3 linked regions of the Homo sapiens genome follow. The protein of the gene in region 1 interacts with the protein of each later gene in a pairwise test. Each region holds a gene or a part of one and is shown in the gene's direction. Other genes may lie near its edges.

Region 1 (7,075 bases):
GGATCACGAGGTCAGGAGTTCGAGACCAGCCTGGCCAGCACAGTGAAACCCCATCTCTACTAAAAAAATACAAAAAATTAGCCAGGCATGGTGGTGTGTGCCTGTAATCCCACCTACTCGGGAGACCGAGGTAGGAGAATTGCTTGAACCCGGTAGGCGGAGGTTGCAGCAAGCTGAGATCATGCCACTACACTCCAGCCTGGGTAACACAGCGAGACTCCATCTCAAAAAAAAGAAGGAAACATCACTTCTGGGCCTGTAATCACAGCACTTGAATGGTTTTGTTGGTTGGTTGGTTGGTTTTGTTTTTTTGTTTGTTTGAGACGGAGTCTCACTCTGTTGCCCAGGCTGGAGTGCAGTGACGCAATCTTGGCTCACTGTAATCTCCGCCTTCCAGGCTCCATCAATTCTCCTGCCTCAGCCTCCTGAGTAGCTGGGATTACAGGTGTGCACCACCACGCCCGGCTAATTTTTGTATTTTTAGTAGAGACCGGGTTTCACCATGTTGGTCAGGGTGGTCTTGAACTCCTGACCTCTAGTGATCCGCCTTTCTTGGCCTCCCACAGTGTTAGGATTACAGGCGTGAGCCACCGCGCCCAGACAGAATGTTTTTAAGCTCCCCAAGTGTTTCTGAGGTGCATCCTGGATTTGGAACCTGCCCCCTGTCTCTGATGGTTTTGTATTATTAATATGGGCTACTGACTCCAGCTGGATGGTAAGTATCTTGAGGGCAGGGCCCCCACCTCAAGCTTCCTTGTTGATGTCACTGTGATATCACAATGTCTGCACAAATATCATTGGATGAAAGGATTCAGAGCAACTGCCACCCAGAATGTCAGTTGCCAGGGAGCTCCAACAGAACTGAGGGACGAACAGTAGGTGCCTGAGAGCTGGCCGATCTGGTCACTCTCTCCAGTGGGCCACAGGGGCCCACTTGGTGGGCAGTCTCTGCTGCCAGCTAGGGCATCTCAGCTCAGCCCAGAGCAAAGACGTGTAGGGACATAACGCTTTCCTCAAGCTTCCTTTCCCAGGTCCAAACTTAGAGGCCCAGTTTTGGGCCTAGAATTCACTGAGGTTTGTGGCTGTTTGTCCAACAGTCACCATGGATCACCGAAGCCGACTACGGGGCACAGGCCTGAACCGAATCCCTGGGACTCAGTCCCGAGCCCCCCGAGTCCCACTCCCCTTCCACGTGCAACAGGAGGCCAGGGAAGGAGAAGACTGGGAGCGAGAGCCACCTCGTCAGAGGCCTCCTATCTATGAGCCACCAGAAAGTGAAGAGCTGCCAGATAATGTTATGGGTAAGGACACACCCTCCCTCAGCAGAAGGAGGCTGGCATCATCTTTTTCATCCTTTACCTCCAGGAAGCAGGGGCCGGGAGGCAGAAAGCAGAGTATACAGTGGGCAGAACTAGGGTGAGGGATGAGTTTGGAAAGGGGAAATTTTCTATCTGCCACAAAAGATTGTTTCACAAGGAGTAAGGATAAAATATGTGAAAGCAACTTGAAACTGAGGCTGTCTGCAATATTAGGTGTTATTTATAAAATCAGGTGTTTGCAATGTCAGTTGCTTACTGTGGGCCAGGTTCTTTGGGAAACAAAGACCTATTACACATTGATTTCAGCCCCAGACAGCCCACAGTCTAGTAGAGGAAAGACAAACTTAGGATGGTTTCTGCAGGATTCAGAAAGATAACAGGTGCTTACAGAAAACAAACTTAACATGTTCTCACTTAATTGTGGGAGCTAAAAATTAAAACAATTGAACTCATAGAGATAGAGAGTAGAAGAATGGTTACTAGAGGCTGGGAAGGGTAGTGGGGGGCTGGGGAGGAAAGTGGGGATGGTTAGTGGGTACAGAAATATAGAATGAATAAGACCTAGTATTTGATAGCACAACAGGGTGACTATAGTCAATAACAATTTAATTGTATACCCTAAAATAACTAAAAGAGTATAATTGGATTGTTTGTAACACAAATGATAAATGCTTGAGGTGATGGATAACCCATTTGCCATGATGTGATTGTTACACACTGTGTGCCTGAATCAAAATATCCCATATACCCCATAAATATATATATATACATATACATATATATATACATATACCTACTATGTAGCCACAAAAAATTTTTTTTAATTTAAAAAGAAAGATAACAAGCACTTGCAGGAGGACAGAGGGCACCCTGGGATCATACAGGCTCATGCCTGTAATCCCAGCACTTTGGGAGGCCAAGGTGGGCGGATCACAATTAGCTGGGCATGGTGGCGCGCACCTGTAATCCCAGCTACTCGGCAGGCCGAGGCAGGAGAATTACTTGAACCTGGGAGGTGGAGGTTGCAGTGAGCCGAGATTGCCACTGCACTCCAGCCTGTGCGACAGAGCGAGACTCTGTCTAAAAAAAAAAAAAAAAAAAAAAACAACCTAACACAGGGTTAAGTTGCAACATTGCCTGTTTGCCCCATAGTTCCTTTCCAGCTGGAAGAGAAGAAATGGTCTAGGGATATGGCTTTTCAGGTTAGACTTTTCTTCTCCAAGTTTTCTGGGGACCTGAAAAGGGCTCCGACTTGAGAGAGGAGTCATGGCTGTTCACAAAGATCACTGCAAGGAAAAGAATAAGAAATGTCTGTTAGAGGGATAAAACGCGAGCTATTCAGAGGCAGAAAGGTCAGTTTCCCTTTGAGGGGCGGGGGTGGCGTGGGATGAGGAGGCTTTTTGGGAGAGATGGGCGTGGAAGGATGTCTAACAAGTGCTGGCGGCGAGGGTCGTTGGCACTTCAATGGTGGGAAGACAGCCATGGGCGAAGCTTTGTGGAAGAAATAGGTGTGAAGGATGAGAAGGCCTACAACAGTGCTGAGGGCGCGAGGCCAGTCACCTGCGAAGTTTTGTGTACAAGATGGGCCCAGAAGGATGAACAGGGTCTAAAACAGTGCTGAGGGTGGGAGTGCAGAAGATCGGTCACAAGTGACGACACAAGGTGGTCTTAGTCCAGTTGGTGGACGCTCGGTGGCCTGGGCCTGCCCCCAGTGCGCAGACGCACACGGCAGGTTGCAGCGGCAAGCGGGGCGGTGCCCACGGCGGGGAGATGGGTGGGGAGGGCAGGGAAAAGGCCAGGGGTTGGGTGATGGGGTAATTGTCAGAAAAAGGAACAACACTGCTGGGAGAGTTTTCTGGTAACTTTTCAAGTCTTCATTTAAATTAAAAAAAAAAAAAGCTGTCTTTGAAACAATAGATTAGGTCACTAAAAACTGCCTGTACGCCCTTGCATGCTGGAGGAAAGTAAATGGTTAGACCTACCCTCCCTAAGTTTTTCCAGGACTTAAAAGAGCTGCAAGTAGTGCAGATCATGGCCCCGTTCACACAAATCACTTCAAGAAAAAAAATTAGTAAATGTCTATTAGATCTTGAAACTTATTCCTGTCTATCTGGAACTTGGTAACCTCTGACCAACAACTAACTCCCCATTCCTTCCCTCTCGCCTCGCCTTCCCTACTTCCCAACCTCTGGTAAGCAGCAGGGTAAATACAGTCAATAATAATGTATATTTCAAAATGAATAAGAGTAAATTTGAAATGTCTCACCATAAAAGTCATAGGTAAACAAGGCGATGGATAAGTTAATGTGATGTAATCATCCCACATTGGATACATATTTCAAAAAATCACATTGCATCCCACGAATGTATACAATTATGATTTGTCAAGTAAATATAATTTTTAAAAACGTTAAGTGACTTTTTAAAAAGCTTATTAGAAGTATAAAATGCAAGCCATTCACAAGCATATAGGTTAGATTCCGCTTGTGAGGGGCTTGTGTGCAGTGGTGAGGCTTTGTGGAAGAGATGGACGTGGAAAGATGTCTAAAACAGCGCGGAGGTCAGGAGACCTTGTCGCTGCCTTCACAGAGTTGGGCAACGCTCCCGGTCCTGGTCAGCCGCGGGACGCAGGCGCAAATGCAGGCTTGGGATGGGGGAGGTGCGGCCGGCGCCCACGTGGCGGGGCGGGGAGCAGATAGGGGGGGTAGGGGGAGGAGCTGGTCTCGCGAGGCCGCGCCCCGGTTCGCGCGGGCGTCGTGCACGCGGTTGTAGCTGCCCGGCGGCGGCAGAAGCGGCGCTCGCGCCAAGGGACGTGTTTCTGCGCTCGCGTGGTCATGGAGGCGCTGCCGCTGCTAGCCGCGACAACTCCGGACCACGGCCGCCACCGAAGGCTGCTTCTGCTGCCGCTACTGCTGTTCCTGCTGCCGGCTGGAGCTGTGCAGGGCTGGGAGACAGAGGAGAGGCCCCGGACTCGCGAAGAGGAGTGCCACTTCTACGCGGGTGGACAAGTGTACCCGGGAGAGGCATCCCGGGTATCGGTCGCCGACCACTCCCTGCACCTAAGCAAAGCGAAGAGTAGGTGGTGTCCCGCCAAAGGGTGGGAGGGGAGATTCCGGAGACACGTGTACCCCGGTTACACCCCCGGAATCTGGGCTTGGGCGGCACCCCCTGGGCTGCCTCCGGGCCCTGGGCGGGCCTGGTTCTCACCTAGGAGGGCGGGGAGGGGAATAAAGGGGAGTTCTAGCTGTGAAGAAAGGTATGGTTTCCACTGATCAGATTTTAGAAGAGGTAGTGGTTACCCCAAAAGCCGCAGCTGAGGGAAAGTGGGTGGCCCTAGTCCCGAGTTTGCATCGAGGATGTTGGGCAAACTGAAACAGTTCCTGAAACATCTCAAAGTGCCTTCAGCACATCCTGTCTTTTTCAGGTACTATTTCAGCGAAGGAAGACATTGATAGGTTGAATAATGATTCACAAAAAGTTTGATTAAACAGAAAAGTTGCTAAACACAGTGCTCGGGAGGTCAAACATTTCATTTTTCTTTCTTCCTTTTTGTTTGCATCTTACAAAGATTATTACTGAAAGCCACCTTCCCCAAAGCCTGTGTAGTTAATGGATATTCCTTATGTTTCTCAGACATGAAGAACCTATTACAGAGTGTACTTTTGAGGGAAATGGGGGAAAAGGTTAGAAGTATGCATTTGGGTTGATGATAAACCTCGTGGCAAATTTGTGTCCTGCCAATTTGGTTTTTGATTATTTGCATTTCTGTCCAGTGTACAAAGCTAATGGCCACTTTCAGGAATGACACGTCAGACGAAGTAGATACTGTGAAAGTTGTAGCCTGCTACATCTGGATGTTAAAATTAACCAAAAGTGAACAGTGGCTATAGATAAAGGCTGTCTCTTGCTTGCTATTCAGTAACCTGCTTTTCCTGCAGATCATTTGACATTCTGTAGGTGTGTAGTTGGTTTTTATGGTTCAGTTACAGCATGTTCCATGCCAGTATTCAGTGAAAAAAGTAATGCTTCAAATTCTGAATCCCTAGAGTTAAATGGAATGTTGTTATGACTTAGGATGGGTTGGTTGGGAGTGATAAATGAGAAAAACTGTTTTGTCCTCTTAAACATTTACAGTTCTTACTTGCTGAAAGTAAGTACTTTCAGTTAACCACTTTGGGACTTTTTTTTTTTTTTTATTTGAGATGAAGTCTTGCTCTGTCACCCAGGCACCCAGGCTGGAGTGCGGTCGCGCGATCTCGGCTCACTGCAACCTCCGCCGCCCGGGTTCAAGCGATTCTTCTGCCTCAGCCTCCCAGGTAGCTGGGACTACAGGCGCGCACCACCACACCCGGCTATTTTTTGTATTTTTAGTAGAGACGGGGTTTCACTATATTGGCCAGGCTGGTCTGGAACTCCTGACCTCATGATCCGCCTGCCTTGGCCTCCCAAAGTGCTGAGATTACAGGCGTGAGCCACGGTGCCCAGCCTACTTTGAGATTTTTAACAAAACCAGTCTTAAATTTTAAAATCAGTATTTCCAAGTCCCACTGGTTTTACTTGCCTGGGAAAGTATTTTAAATATGTCAGCCAGTTAAGTGTTTACTTACATTACATATATTTTCCATAGGAAACAAATCTACTTCAAAGCTTTCCCTTTACCAGCAAAACTTAACATTTTAGTTGTTTACTACATTTCTCTGTCACATGTAGGCTTATCTATAATTAAAGATACAAAGACTTTTGTTAGTAAAGACTATTATGGAGCCATTAAGGCCATATTTTCAAATAATTTTTAGTAATATCAAAAACTGTTCATAATTAATTTACTGTTTCCTTTAAGGAGAAAAAAAAGGCGGGATGCAACACGTGGCAAATTTGTGTTTAAAAAAGAACGGAAAGGCCAGGTGTGGTGGCTCACGTCTATAATTTCAGCACTTTGGGAGGCCGAGGCCATCCGATCACCTGAGGTCGGGAGTTCGAGACCAGACTGGCCAGCATGGTGAAACCCTGTGTCTACTAAAAATACAAAAATTAGCCGGGTGTGATGGCGCATACCTGTAATCCCAGCTACTGGGCAGGCTGAGGCAAGAGAATCCCTTGAACCCGGGAGGCGGAAGTTGCAGTGAGCCCAGATCACACCACTGCACTCCAGCCTGGGCGACAGACTGAGACTCTTGTCTCAAAAAAAAAAAAAGTAAATAACTAAAATTAAAAAAAATAAGACTAGAAAGACAGACATCAGAATGTTAACAGTAGTTGATGGGAGTTATGGAGAGAGAGGATTTAAGTATTCTTTGTACTTCTCTGCATTTACCAGAATCTTTATGTTAATTACATAATTTATATTCAAGACAATTTTTGTTTTTTTAATAAATGCAAGGGATTGCTTTGGGAATTCCATTTATAGATCTTAGCAAAGTAACTACCATTCTTAACCAAATATTTCCAAAATCAATTTTCAGAACAAAATTTATTTTTCAAATATGGTTTTCCCAGTATGCTAAAATCATTAAGGCGTGTCATTGTAATAGATCATTACAATTATTATAACCTCTCACTTGAGTAGCATTTTAAGTAATTTATTTAAAGTATATATAATTGAATACTCTTCTGCTGTCTATTTCTCCCTCCTGGCCTTTACCTAATCAGATCAGGATTATATATATGAGGTAGGATGCTGGCTCAAGATAAGTAATCATATGTTATATATTAATTTTTAAGAGAAATTCATGTTGTTTGTCTCTATTTTGGAGTGA
Region 2 (7,292 bases), on another chromosome or scaffold:
GTGTGGGCACCGTCATAGAAAACTATCGAAAAGGAGAGTGAAGCATTAGAGAACTGCTGAGCTTGGAGGGAACTCGGAGCTCATTTAGTCCCTTGTTCCCGAAGCTCCAAGCACAATCCGTGGTCAGCAGCATCACCCTCACCAGGGAGCTTGTTAAAATGCAGAGGCTCAGCCCCAAGAGGAACATGATGGATCAAGATTTGCATCTAAACAAGATCCCTGGGGGACTTGACTGCACGTCTTTGTTTCTGAAAAGCTGTCCTAGTCCCCAGCCCTCATCTGCATTTGGGGGAAACATGAGGAACAGAGAGGGGTGGAGTTTGTTCCAGGTCCCCCAGCCCATTAGGAGCAGGGCCTTGACAAAAAACCTGTAAGACTTTGGAAAAGGATTCAAAGCTCTCTGCGAGAGGCAGGCGTTTGCACAAAAGATGAATAAGTGCAGAAGAAATGCTCAGTGTTGCTAATTGTGTCCAACAGGGTTCAGGCAAGAAAAGAGAATCCAACTGCATTGGTTCTTGGGATTTGAATAAAGTGGCTATTTCTAGAGTTGGGGGACAAGCTTGAGGAAACCAACCAGGGACTGTTTTTCCTAAGGCTCAAGCAGCAAAGAAAAGCATCTGGGTATCCCAGCCCAAGGAGATAATAGGAGCCAAGGACAAGGCCTTATCAGGAGGGACACAGCCAACTGCCACACTTGTGATCTAGAGAAGACAGCAGGGAAAAGTGCCCTGACATCTGACCTCCTGCCATGCCACCCTCTGGCTGAACCCAAGTAGAGATGAGGAAACTGAGTCACAAAGTGCCCAAAGTCACCCCGTGGGGGAGTCAGGATTCAAATCCAGGCCATCTGGCCCCAGAGTCCATAAAGATAAACATAAGGTTTGTTTATTCCTTTGGCAATTATCTACTATTTGCTGCTCAGTATTCTAGACACTATGGATTCCAAATTCTGGGTTTTTCAAAATCTTTTCAGTAACACTTTTGTAGTGAGAATATTATCGGTGGCGAGTCCGCAACACTCCCAGCCCTTGTCTTCTCAGAGGAAAGAATTCAATTGAGAGACGCAGGCAAGTTTTAAAGCAGAGGCAAAGGTTTATTGAAAGAAGCAAAGTACAACTGAGAGATCAAGTGCCCCGCTCAACCTTTGGCTCGGGGCTTTTATACACTGGCTTGGTTCTGGGGTTTCTTCTCCTCCTTGATTCCTCCCTTCGGTGGGCTGCTGCGCCCTCCCTGCATGCGCAATGGCCTGCCAGCACTTGGGAGGGGCCGCATGCGCAGTGTGTTTACTAAGGTTGTGCGCATGCTCACTTGGGGTGATTTTCCCTTACTGGTCCGTCGCCGCAAGAAAAAGGTCATATACAAGTCAGACTCCAACATTTGCCCTTCTGCTCGACCTTACCAGGGAATTGTGGTTTGCTGGCTCCAGATGATGTCAACTATCTGTTAGGGAACTCCTCTCCCTCTTGGCGCCATTCGTGGCCACTTATCATGTCAGAGGGACAGTTTTATGATCGCCTGTCCATCATTTGATGCACTGCCATTTCTGGGGGCCCTCTCCTGCACAAGAACACAATAAACAGCCTTGTTAAAAGAGTCCCTATTTCACTGCAATAAGACTGAGTGGTGGCCAGAGTGGTAGCAGCTGTTGCTTTTGTGGAATTGGATGGACAGCCTGGTAGGAGAAAGGCCCAGGGGTTCTGACCAGCAGTGGGGTCGTGCTGCTCCCTGAGGCCTCTGCTGGGTCCTGGGCCATCAGCAGGGACCTTAGCCAGCAGTGGGCACCTGCAGGGGTGGAGGCCAGGCCTGGGCCATGTGGCAGCTCTAAGGTCCAAAGATTGCTGCTGTGGGAAATTCCCACCCCTGCAAATGACTCCCAGCCAGGGACATCCTTAAACTGCTGCCAGAGGAAGAGTGACATCTATGTCCCCATAAGATCCTTATGCTCCAGAATGTCCTCCCCCACTCTCCTCCCCTCCTGGGCAGGCTGAGGTCCAGGAAGCAAAGGCCCCTAGGCACACTGGGGATGCACCTGTGAGCCCTTTCCTGCTCCAAAGCCTCCCAAAGGCTGGCTCCTTACCCTGAGGCCTCTGCTCAGCTTGTTGCCTCCCAAGAGAACCCTGCCCTGACCAGAGTTTTGGAATGGCATCCTGCAGACCTGGACTTAAATTCCTGCTGGGTGACTGCAGCCTACATCACTTCACCCTGCCAAACCTCAGTTTCTTCATCTCAAGACAAGACTAAAATATCCACCTGGGGTTGCTGATGCAAGGATGAGAGGAGACGTGCAGCTTAACCAGCACAGCGCCTGCACATAGTAGGTGCTCAATAAATATCAGTTTCTTTCCAATTTCTGCTGGGTGCTGCAAGGATCTCAGGAAATGGAAGACTCAGCCGTGCCTGCAAGGAGCCATCAGACTGGTGGTGTGGGGACTGAGGGGAGGGACGGATGAGGATCCCAACAAACCTCAGCCCCAGTGACAGGAGCAACACGGTACAGAGGAGCAGAGAGGCCTGGACTGTGGGGTTCCCTGTGCTTAACGTGGGACATTCTGATCTTAACCTCAGTGCCTGCCAGTGCTGTTTGTGACCTATTGGGAGTCACCCTGTTAATCCCACCACATTCAGTTGGTTGAGGCCATCATGAAAACCTGCCCAATTTCAAGGGAAGGGGGCAGAAACATTACCTTTTGATGGAAGGAATATCAAAGAATTCGTGGGCATATTTTTAAAGGACCACAATTATCAAAAAGCAGAGTGGTTAATGCTGTGGTGGGGAAAGCGCAAAGGGTTCTGGGACCTCAGAGGGGACCCTTTCTAGAATCCAGAGAAGCATGGGAGTGGTCAGGGAAGGCTTCCTGGGGGTGAGGGCAAAGCAGAACTCACAAATGTAAGCAGGGCTGGGGCAAAACTCTAAAAATTAAACACAGTCTGTACTATAAATTTTGTTTTCCAGAATGAAATTTTACTATCTTTACTTACTGCGAATATATGCCCGGGACCATACCCCCAAGAAAATAAAAATTTTAGAGGCTGGGCATGGTGGCCCAAGTCTATAATCCCAGTATTTTGGAAGGCCAAGCGGGAGGCTTACTTGAGCTCAGGAGTTCGACACCAGCCTGGGCAACATAGCAAGACCTCGTCCCTACTAAAATACAAAAAATTAGCTGGACATGGTGGCTCACACCTGTAGTCCCAGCTACTTAGGGGGCTGTGGTGGGAGGATCACTTGAGCCCAGGAAGTTGAGGTTGCAGCGAGCGATGTTCATGCCACTGGACTCCTGCTTGAGCAACAGAGTAGACTTTGTCTCAAAAAATGAAAAAAGAAAAAAAAATTGTACGTATCAACAAGCAAAAACTTTTTTAACACTTATAATTCTACCCCCACAACCAGAGACAATGCCTCATGACTCCTTGCTAAATATTTTCCAGATTGTTGAACATAGAAGCCTATTTTGAACCCCCCAAAATAGAACCTTACTCTATGGTGCCATCGGAAACGGATGCCTCATGACATCCCTTTCCTTGCCAAGAAATACCTTTATTTCTGCAGCCTCACTTTAAGGGGCATGTCATAATTCATTTAACCAATGCCCTTCTGGTGGATACATGAGGTTGGGTCTCACTTCTCCTGTCCTGTTTCCCACAGCATAGCAGTGGTATCTTGGAGCAGTGATTTACTGGCACACTGACTCAATTATGTATTTAAGGGCAAGTCCCTGAAATTGAATTCCTGGGTCACAGGGCATGCAACTGTTTAAACATTTGCCAATTGCCTTCCAGAAAATTTCACCACCAGCAAGGTTTGAGAAACACTGTTTTCCCATTGGGGGAAACATTTATTTTTTAAATAAACGAGCCAATATATTTTAAAAAAGAGAGTTTGGTTGGTGCCAGATGTAGCTTCACTCTCAACCCTGCCCTCTGCTGGGGGTGAGATCTCAAGGGAGCTATGTGGCTTTTTTGAACCTCAGTTTCCTCATCTGCTAAACCAGGCCTTCCTAGCCGAGCTCTTAAGAGACTGGCTGAGATGAGGCAAGATGAACAGTGATGAATATGGGGTCTTTCTGTGGGGAGGGTGGACAGGGATGATCATAGGAGTCAGGCTTCCTCATCCACTGATCTGGGCAGTGAAAACTGGCTTCTAAGTATGACCTTATGACTTCAGTGATGTCGCAAGCAGGTTCCAGTCCCTGTGCCTCCCCTTCCCGCTCCCAGGAACCCATCCAGCCTCAGGAACTGCCCCCAGCCATCGAGCCTTGGCTACTTAAGGGACCTGGGCCCAATCCACAGCTGGGACAGTCCTGGCCCACTGCACTGGGAATCTAGGATGGGGGCCTTGGCCAGAGCCCTGCCGTCCATACTGCTGGCATTGCTGCTTACGTCCACCCCAGAGGCTCTGGGTGCCAACCCCGGCTTGGTCGCCAGGATCACCGACAAGGGACTGCAGTATGGTAAGAAGCCACATCTGCTGGCTGGACTTGGCAAACCCACGCTCCAGGCTGCTCTGGGTACAGTGGGGACAGGGAGTGGGGACACAGACCGGACCCTCTCCCTGGGGCAGTGCCACCTTCTGGGTCAGGTGGCTCTGGCTCCTATTCTGGCCTTACTGCCCACCAGCTGAGTGCCCTGGGCATGTTATTTGTGGTAGTGAGGTCCTCCACCAGCCAACAGAACACAGCTTTGCGTGCAAGTAGTTGATTTGGGAAATGATTCCAGGAAACACTGTAGGGAATCGGTACTGAGATGAGGAAGGGAGGGCAGCCAGGAGAGAGTGTGCAATTAAACCAGCCACCACCTCTGATGATGGGAACCACTCAGCTGGGAAAATTCTGCGTAAAGTTTGGAAACACATGCCTCTGAACTGGAAGTCAGAATTGTGGTCACCTCTAGAGGCAGGCAGAGACCCTGAAGGGCATGAGGGAGGTCTGCCGGGGTGCTGGAAGTTGCCATATCTTGATCCAGGTGGTGATCACATTCCTGTATAAACATTAAAAATTATTTAGCAATACCTTTAAAATTTGTGCCCGTTAGGTACTTTATGTATATTATTCCTCAATTTTAAAGAATGGGCAGGCCAGGCACAGTGGCTCACGCCTGTAATCCCAGCACTTTGGGAGGCCGAGGTGGGTGGATAGCTTCAGGCCAGGAGTTCGAGGCAAGCCTGGCCAACATGGTGAAGCCTCGCCTCTCCTAAAAATACAAAAATTAGCCAGTCTTGGTGGCAGCCAACTGTAATCCCAGCTACTTGGGAGGCTGAGGCAGGAGAATCGCTTGAACCCGGGAGGCAGAGGTTGCAGTGAGCCGAGATCATGCTGCTGCATTGCAGCCTGGGCAACAGAGGGAGACTGTCTCAAAAAAATAAATAAAAATAAAACAAAGAATGAGCAAAAGTAGGAGTATTTTTTTTTAAATACTGAAACAAAGCCTCCCGACTATCCAGGTGGCATGGGAACTGGGATATTTATACACCACAGTGATTGATTGAGGGCTTCTGGGCCGGGGGTTTGTCAACTCCCCAGCACTTCTGTCCTGTTGCATGTACCTGCTTTCTGCAGTTCCAGGACAAAAAGCCTCGGGACATACAGGCTCAGGGAGGCAGACATTGGCAGCTGGGAGTCAACTGTCACTCACTGGAAAGACTCAAGGATATGGACAGGCACTGACCACATGTCTTCTCACATCCCTAGAGCCTCAATTGCCTTACCTATTAAATGAGATAACAACATTCCCTTAGATAGGGTTGTTGGGAGCCCAGACTGGCTCGAGACAGGCAGAGGGAAATCAGGGAAGGATTCCAGGATATAGTAAAATGGAAAAGACAGTGGGAATTACCCAGGGACAAGGGGTAGCGTTCCAGGCGGAAGGACCCCAACATGTGCGTTTGCTAGAGGGAGAAGAGCAAATTGGAAAGAGGTGAAAGGGGAGGCTGCTGGTCATCTGTGTACCCATGTCTGCCTTGGGGACAGAAACCTGGGCCCCTCAGATCTCGGAACAGTGGGACCTGGTAACTGCTACTTGCATTGAAACTGTAAATCAGGGAAGTTTCTCTTTTGTTCCTTTGCACTGTGCACACACACCATGTTTATGTAACCAGTCCTCTGAGGTTGGACATTTTGGTCCTTTCCATATTTTTTTTTTTTTTGAAACGGAGTCTCACTCTGTTGCCAGGCTGGAGTGCAATGGCACAATCTCAGCTCACTGCAACCTCCGACTCCCTGGTTCAAGTGATTCTCCTGCCTCAGCCTCCCGAGTAGCTGGGATTACAGGCACATGCTACCACGCCCAGCTAATTTTTGTATTTTTAGTAGAGACAGGATTTCACTATGTTGGCCAGGATGGTCTCGATGATCCACCCGCCTCGGCCTCCCAAAGTGCTGGGATTACAGGCGTGAGCCACTGCGCCCGACCCCTTTCCATATTTTTAATAATATAAACCCTATTTGCTGTTCCAGGCATTTACTGAGTGCCTGCTGTGTGTCAGGCACCAAGCTAGGAGTGCTTGTTATCCTCACAGCCCCCTTCTTGCTTTGCAGTTTCAATGGCATGCCAATGAGGAAAGTTTAGTTTAGTTTAGTTTAGTTTAGTTTAGTTTAGTTTAGTTTTGTTTTGTTTTGTTTTGTTTGAGACAGAGTCTCACTCTGTCGCCCAGGCTAGAGTGCGGTAGTGCGATCTCGGCTCACTGCAATCTCTGCCTCCCGGGTTCAAGTGATTCTCCTGCCTCAGCCTCCTGAGTAGCTGAGACTACAGGTGCCTGCCACCATGCCCGGCTAATTTTTGTATTTTTTAGCAGAGATGAAGTTTCACCATATTGGCCAGGCTGGTCTCGAACTCCTGACCTCAGGTGATCTGCCCTCCTCGGCCTCCCAAAGTGCTGGGATTACAGGCGTGAGCCACCACGCCCAGCAAATGTATTGTTGTCATTGCTATTTGACAGATGAACAAAGTGAAGGTTGTTTGGGGACTTTGTCAAAGTCACCCAGCTAGAAAGATGCCCTCTTTCTCTAGCCCCCAGATCCTTCCAGTTTCTTCTACACAGGCCAGATGTCATGGAGAACAAGAAGGAGGACTATCCGTCCAAGCGCACAGCACTTTTGCCCTTGGGGATTTGTTGGCAAAGGCATTCCATTTCCTCATCAGTAAAATGGGCATGAACCTAACAATGCCACAGAAATGCAGGGACACCTCTGAATGTCCCTCATGCTACCTGGCACACAGAGGGGCTCATATCCTGTCATTGTACTTAATGCTAATAAGGATGTTGGCCCCTCTCTTGAGGACAGGTGGGAGCCACC
Region 3 (7,162 bases), on another chromosome or scaffold:
TTTCTTTTTAATCTGAGGCAGGTCAGCTCTGCAATCCTATCTAAAAAGACATGAAAGTAGAGGCAACCAATCTGGAAGAAGCCCTAATAATCCATTCAGTAGAGGTAAGCTGTAGGACTCTCATAAATACATATGACTGGTGAAAATGGGGATTTGGATTCAGTAAAACACAGAAATGTGAGGTTATGAATCCTTGGTATCAGAGATTTGGCGTTAACTAAGACCCTCAAACCAGAGTAAAATCTACTGATTGCAAACACGAGATCTGGTGTTTATTTAGCTTCTTTTTAATTGTTTCCTAAATCTGCTTTATTAAAATGCAGGTAGTTCTATAAGGAAAAACCGATATTTCATTTGGCCTAATTGAAGTGGCCTATAGAAGTGAGTTGTAACTATATTATTGAGTCTGAGATCAAACATGGTTAAAGTAGCCCCATGTAGTTCCTGGCTCTCTCCGTATTTCTCTTTTAAATCCTGTACCATCCTGTGGCTTGTCTTCCCTCTTGGAAGTGGCACTGGAGTTTGGGTCTGAGGAGCCTAGACACTCGGAGGCAGCAGACTCACCGAGATCCAGCACCGTCCACATACTGTCCCAGTTGCTGAGACTCCGCCAGTGTTGCTGTCATCTTTCTTTACTGAAGTCGGTAAGAAAAGCCCTCAGCCTGCTGTCATATAGTGCTCCAGAGGGGCCACCTGAGAAGTCAATTTCACTCTCCTCCAACTGGAATCCAGTCTGCTTGATCAAAGGAAATGCTGTTTCGGTTTTTCTATTTTTGTTTTTTGGTGGGTTGGAGAAAAGGGGGCTTATTTATTTTGCTTTATTTCATATTAATCTTGATAATTCCTATGGCATCAAGAATAGTGTATTTCTATTGTTTATTTTGTTTTAGATTAACTGTTTAAGAAAAGAAAATGATATTTTGTTTAAAAAGAAGCCATTTGTGAATGCTCTGGTACTTCAGAATGTCATAAAGCTAATTTAGTTCTTGGGGTTTTCTGCTTTCAGGCAGTTTTGGGGTTTTGGGTTCCAGTTATAAAAACTCAGATAGTTATACAGACTGAAAAGTTGCCCCTACCTTGGATAGAGGCACATCCAAAATTAAGAGGAGTATTCTATTCATTTAAGGAGCTGTAATAATGTATTCTGATTATCAACATCTCAATTATATTCTAGCTTGGAAAAAATAGAATGATTATGTCATCTGCCTGGCAAGTCTTTAAAAAGTTCCATCATTTGGTTTATCTTTAATGTGGTGAAAAAACTTGCAAGATCACACTTTAATCAAGGTGTCTTGAGGAGTTACTGATGACAAATTACAAGATATTTTGCTCTGTGAAGTGGTAAACAATCAAAACATCATCAACAAGTAACAAGGTTTGCTCCCTTGACTCCCAGCTGCTCCTGTCCTTTTTTGTCTGTTCAGGCCCTGGATCCAATGGAACTGAAGGGTGAAGGTCTTGTCCTTTCCCTGGAAGAACAGCTCAGTGCTTTGACCTTGTCAGAACTCCGTGACTCAGAGCCATCTTCCACTGTTTCCCTTAACGGCACCTTCTTCAAGATGGAGCTTTTTGAAGGCATGCGAGAGAGCACCAAGGTACTTTTTGTCTCCTCTGTAGTAGTCGAGAGACTTCGATTCCTCACACATTTTCCTGTGTGACAGCACTTCATTTGTCCAAGTGGGAACAGCCATTTGCCAGCAGAGCTAGAGCCGTTAAATTCTAGCTGATCAGATTCTCCCTCCAGTCTTAAAGCTTCATTTATTTCACAGATAACACTAAAGCCTTACTACATAGGGGACTTTGAGAGAGTAATTTGGGACAACCCCAGCATTGCACTGAAGTGGGTTTTCTGTCATGGGTCACTGGGGAGCTTGCCAGGTTTGTGCTAGGGACGGGGCCTATGCAAGTGAGCAATTTGTTTAGAGAAAGCTTAAAAGGAAAACAAAGGCTTGACTCTAGAGACTGTGTCATACATGCGAGCGCCAATTGCTCTGACTTTGAAAGGCTTCCACATGTGAGTAGTGTTTCCTACATAGCCTTCTGTCTTCATTAGTCATTCTGCTCTGTTTTCGTCAGAGCTTTTTAAGGCAGAAACATTCTGCTGGAGGAAGGCTTAGATATGCCGTAACCTGAATCCTGCCTGTCTGCTGGCTCGGAATGTGCTTCATCATCCTGCCTGTCTTGAAAGTGAGGCTTGTTTCTCTCTTAGCATCTCAAGCTGCCGTTCTTGGGCTCAACCTCTCTTCAAAGGCTTTTTTTGAAAAAGTGTATTAATAACTAGAAAGGTCACTTCCAGGGGAATGGCATTATTTTTTAAAAGGAATGCTGCCTTTTAATTAAAATTTGAAAACATTTACCTAGGTCTTTACCACTGATAGCTGAGAGAAACATAAGAAGAGCATCCCATGTGGCCAGAACACACATGCTAGTGCCTTCAGAGTGAGCTATTGGGCTAAAATTTAAATTCCTAATCATTTGTGTTCCTTGTTTAATTAAATGCAGGTAATATTTATTCACAAGTTTTCTTAACATATGTCCATTAATAGTTCAAACCACATACGGTTGTTTCAAGTAGGGAAGGAGGCTTCTTACTGGAATTTGACCCCGGCTCGTGGGCCATAAATCCAGCCCTCCTGCTGCAGTTTTCTCAAAACACCATGGCTAGCTTTTTCATGTGGGAGTCACAGCGCCTTCCACAATCTCAAGTTGCCAAGACACCAGGCACATCAGTGTCTCTGTTCTATTGTTAACTAAATAACAGATGTAGCTGCTTTTCTGTCTGCTAATTTGAATGGTACAGTTCTGTGACTCACTTCCTGCCTAGGCACCAGAATGTTTGTTAAGATTGGAAAGCAGCCCCATGTGGTGACCACTGTAATGACATCCTAGAATGTGGGAGCTCAGGGCACCTCAGAATTTATCTGGCCTAAGTCCTTCTTTTCACTGATGAGGAATCTGAGTCCCAAAGTGGTCCAGCCATATGAGGACAGAGGAAGAACTTCTGTATATTTGTCTCCTGATTGACTTACAGCCCAGTTTTCTTCCTTCTCCAGCATTCTGGGGGTGAACTCTGGGGCCCTTAGAGGCTCTTGAAAGGTTTTTCACATGAGCAGCTGGGAAGAATGAGCCCAGCTGCACTCCAAAGTCATGCCCCACGTGTTCTTACTGACAGCTCCCCTGTGGACTCAAGTGCACCCTAAGGGTTCTTGGGGAATACCCAGGGAGCCTGTTCGGAAGCTTTAACAATGGTTCCTCCGTCTGGACAGGTCCTTTTCAACAACATTTGGAGCAGGCCATAAAGTGGGTAAAGCTCTTTCACTTTCTTCTTCAGCAAACATTAGGAGAGTATCTTCTCTGTTTTGGCCATGTGTGTACTCACAGCCCCTCACACATGGCCGAAACAGAGAAGTTACTTTCCTAATATTTGCCTCCTTGGAGTGTCTCAAGTCCTGGAAGCAAGAGATAATAAGCAATTAATATACAGTATGACAAGGACCGTGATAATAGAAACAAAAGGTGCTATGATAGTACTTGGGCAGTGGGCACCTAACCTGTACTTTGGGGGTTGGGAGGACCTCCAAGAAGAAGTGACATTAAGCTGACACAAAAGGGTGTTCTAGGCAGAGGGAGCAGAATGGACAAGATGGCCAGTGTGTGATTTATGGGAAGAATTTTGGTGTGCTTGCTGTGTCGTTTGAGGAGGGCATGGTGAGAAACGAACCCAGAGAAGCAGAGGCTGGAGCAGCAAGAATCCGGCAAGCTGCCTTGAGGAGCTTGGCCTTTATCCTCAGTGGGAAGCTATGGAAGGGCTTTAGCCAGAGGGGTGAAGTGACAAACTCACATTTTAGAAAGAGCTTTCTGGCTGCAGAGAGGAGGGTGGAATAAAGACAGGTGAGGCCAGAGCACAGACGCCATGTAGGAGGCTGCTTCGCATGGCAGGTGAGGGGAGATGGAGAAAAGTGAATTGCTTAAACATACAATGTTGATGTAACCTTTTCCCAGATTTCATCTCTGTTGGCAGAATTGGAGGCAATTCAAAGAAATTCAGCATCCCAAAAGAGGTAACTGCGTTTTCTCATTATCCAAGTATTGGTCATAATTATGTGAGAAAATTTGATATTGCCAAGAGTTATAAATCAAGGACTGTGAGTCATGCTCAGCAGAAAGCACTGAGGTTATAGCACACATTCCCTGTGATTTCTAATTAAAATATTTGTGGTACAAATTGAAAAGGAGATCCCTAGAGGATCAGGGTAAGCGAAGCATCTGAAAAAGTGTTTAAAAGTAGAGAAGCATATAAAGAAAAGCAAGCGAGTGAGGAGGCTCCAGCAGTGCTGATAACGTTCTTAAGCTGAGTACTTGGATACAAGGACTCATTTGTTATACCTGACATATGTGCTATACACCTGCATTATTTATAAAATAATTCAATATAAAAATTTAGAACTCGAATTAAGACAGCGTGGGGGCAGGGAGGAGCCTGTTGTTCTGGCTGGCACAAGAAGGGTGGTCAGTGTGTCCCTTTTGTGCAGGACCACAGATTTCTGGATGAGCACTAGGACCCCAAATGAAAGAAGGCTGGAGTCATCACTTTACTCTAGCTACCATTTTTTTCTGACTTCATTTAGCACTAAATAAATTGTAGAAAGGACCTAGAAATAACTGGAAGCATTATAATCTTCAGATATGACCTAAATGTGTGCCTTCTCCCTTAGGTAGCAGAAGGCCTTTCCTTGTCAACATTTGATAGCTAACCTTAAGAATGATGAGGGCATTAAAGCCCTGCAGATGAGTCTGTTTAATCTATGTTAGGGTATTTTTTTATTTTATTCTTCTTTCCAGTGTCATTGTCTCTCAGTGGACCAACATGCTGAAAGTTGTAGCATTGCACCTGAAGAAGCATGGACTGACTTATGCCACCATCGATGGCTCTGTCAATCCCAAGCAGAGAATGGACTTGGTAGAGGCATTTAACCACTCCAGAGGCCCTCAGGTACAAGCTGGTCACATCAGAGCCGCATAATTAACTGTTCTGAGTTATACAAAGAGAATTCTTTTTGTTTGGTTGGTTTTTGTTTTTGTCTTTTTGAGACGGAGTTTTGCTCTTGTTGCCCAGGCTGGACTGCAATAGTGCTATCTTGGCTCACCGCAACCTCCGCCTCCCGGGTTCAAGCGATTCTCCTGCCTCAGCCTTTCAAGTAGCTGGGATTACAGGCTCCTGCCACCAAGCTTGGCTAATTTTTGTATTTTCAGTAGAGATGAGGTTTCACCATGTTGGCCAGGCTGGTCTTGAACTCCTGACCTCAGGTGATCCACCTGCCTTGGCCTCCCAAAGTGCTGGGGTTACAGGCGTAAGCCACCGTGCCCAGCCATATAAAGAGAATTCTGATATGGCAACTTAAAAATATTTACAGCCTTGATTCCTCCGAGTGTTTAGAATTTATTAGACATGTATTGGGATACTTTTAAAGAGCACAAATATTCTAAAAAGAATCAAATATGAGGACTAAAAGGAGATTAACAGCAGAGCTGGTTAGGTTGAGGGGAATCTTTGCAGAGGAGGCAAGCTTTGAAGGATAGGTGGGGTTTTGGTATGAGGAAATATGGAAGGAAATGAAAGAACACAGGCATCTAATTATAGATAATAAAGATTTGGAAAGCATTAGTAGAATGATAGGCAGGAGAATTATTGTAGCAATGGAGGGGTAGGGACTGATGAAATAAACATAATCTGGTTAATTGAAAGTTTATTGAGCTGACCATCCCCAGGGTTCTAAATTACAGTATTTATATATTTTGGCAAGCACTCAGTTAATTTTTTGAGGTTGACTCACACACACACAAAATGTGATGTGAGAATTTTCTCAAAAGTGAGACATGGGAGATAGCATTATAATGTTAAAAAAAAAAACAATTTATAACAGCAGAAGGAAATTTGATAGGAACACAGTGCTTATCTGTATTGATTGTGGACTTAAACCTGAGACCGAGATGTGTTACGAGACCAAGTCTGTTTAAAGTTAATGTTGTGTTTCCTTTTGAAGGTAATGCTAATCTCTCTCTTGGCCGGAGGTGTTGGTCTAAACCTGACTGGAGGAAATCACCTCTTTCTTTTGGACATGCACTGGTAATGATTCCGGATTTGTCCTGGGTTGTCACAGCACATCAAGGAGGCCAGTGGGCTACAGGGGCAGCAAGAACTGACTTCTTATGTTGATTGCTGTGTTCGTATTGCAGAGATGCCTTGCTTTGTATGTGTCTATAGATACAGATCTAAGCAGGGTATAGGGCTAGCTGACTCCCCTGAATTCCTGAGCTAGCAAGCCTTCAAATGACTACTCAAAATAGTTCATTCACGTTATTGTTAGTCTAACATCTGTTTCCATGGAAACGGGGAGCATAGCTTTTCCTCATGGCTAAGAGTTAACCTTGCTCAGTTTTACCTCTTCTCCAGAATACTGTATTCCAGACACACTTGTTGGGGTCCAAGGAAATTTCAACCTTTGAAAAGAGGGAGAAGCATTACTCCAAAAAGAAAAGGAATAGGGATTTTCTAATTATGTTAGAAATACACTTAATACCTCACCCTTGGATTCATTGTATGTAGTGTTAATACCAGGAGTACAACCACATCTTTCGTGGCTACAGAATGAATGAGTTAGTGTGTTGCTAACAGAAAATCTCATAATGAGTACCAGTTTCTGGTTTTCCAGTTATGCCAATCAAGGATTGCTGCTGGGGATTGTCATTGGTCCAATTCTCCAGACAGCCCAGATGGGTACAAATAGGTCAACCTGTTATCATCTTCCAGGAGAACGGGTTTAGTTCTTACTTGGGACTCCTCTGTACACGTGAGTGAGGAAAGCATACTAGGAATCATGCTTTTTTTTTTTTTTCAGAGATAGAGAAATGTTATCCAAGATTTTAAAGAGGTAAGATGAGAAACTAATTTGGAGTTACAATGGGAATCAATAAAGAAGGAAACAAATTAAGTCTCCTTAATCGAATCACAGAATATTCAAGTTGAAAAAGGCAGCTAGTCAAGATCATTAGCTGGCCCTTCAATTTCCAAGTAGCAATCTGAAGCCTAGAGGACTGAGGTTAAATAACTTGCCCAAGGACATCTAGCTACCTAGAGACCAGACCTGAGTTTTGGTTTCAC

Evidence for each region.
Region 2: the proteins of PRDX4 (region 1) and LBP interact in binary tests that used the Homo sapiens proteins (3 or more experiments, as listed by UniProt).
Region 3: the proteins of PRDX4 (region 1) and TTF2 interact in a two-hybrid assay, tested with the Homo sapiens proteins (one study listed by BioGRID and IntAct).

The regions. Positions count from the first base shown.
Region 1 is NC_000023.11:23,663,418-23,670,492, forward strand, and holds the start of PRDX4 (peroxiredoxin-4 precursor), read left to right. Parts: upstream 1-4,075; 5' UTR 4,076-4,153; coding exon 4,154-4,394; intron 4,395-7,075. UniProt on the Homo sapiens protein: Thiol-specific peroxidase that catalyzes the reduction of hydrogen peroxide and organic hydroperoxides to water and alcohols, respectively.
Region 2 is NC_000020.11:38,342,190-38,349,481, forward strand, and holds the start of LBP (lipopolysaccharide-binding protein precursor), read left to right. Parts: upstream 1-4,292; 5' UTR 4,293-4,327; coding exon 4,328-4,451; intron 4,452-7,292. UniProt on the Homo sapiens protein: Plays a role in the innate immune response. Binds to the lipid A moiety of bacterial lipopolysaccharides (LPS), a glycolipid present in the outer membrane of all Gram-negative bacteria.
Region 3 is NC_000001.11:117,091,307-117,098,468, forward strand, and holds part of TTF2 (transcription termination factor 2), read left to right. Parts: intron 1-21; coding exon 22-104; intron 105-510; coding exon 511-644; intron 645-1,424; coding exon 1,425-1,595; intron 1,596-3,336; exon of another isoform or gene 3,337-3,422; intron 3,423-4,002; coding exon 4,003-4,061; intron 4,062-4,842; coding exon 4,843-4,993; intron 4,994-6,044; coding exon 6,045-6,127; exon of another isoform or gene 6,128-6,899; coding exon of another isoform or gene 6,900-6,900; exon of another isoform or gene 6,901-6,932; intron 6,933-7,162. UniProt on the Homo sapiens protein: DsDNA-dependent ATPase which acts as a transcription termination factor by coupling ATP hydrolysis with removal of RNA polymerase II from the DNA template. May contribute to mitotic transcription repression. May also be involved in pre-mRNA splicing.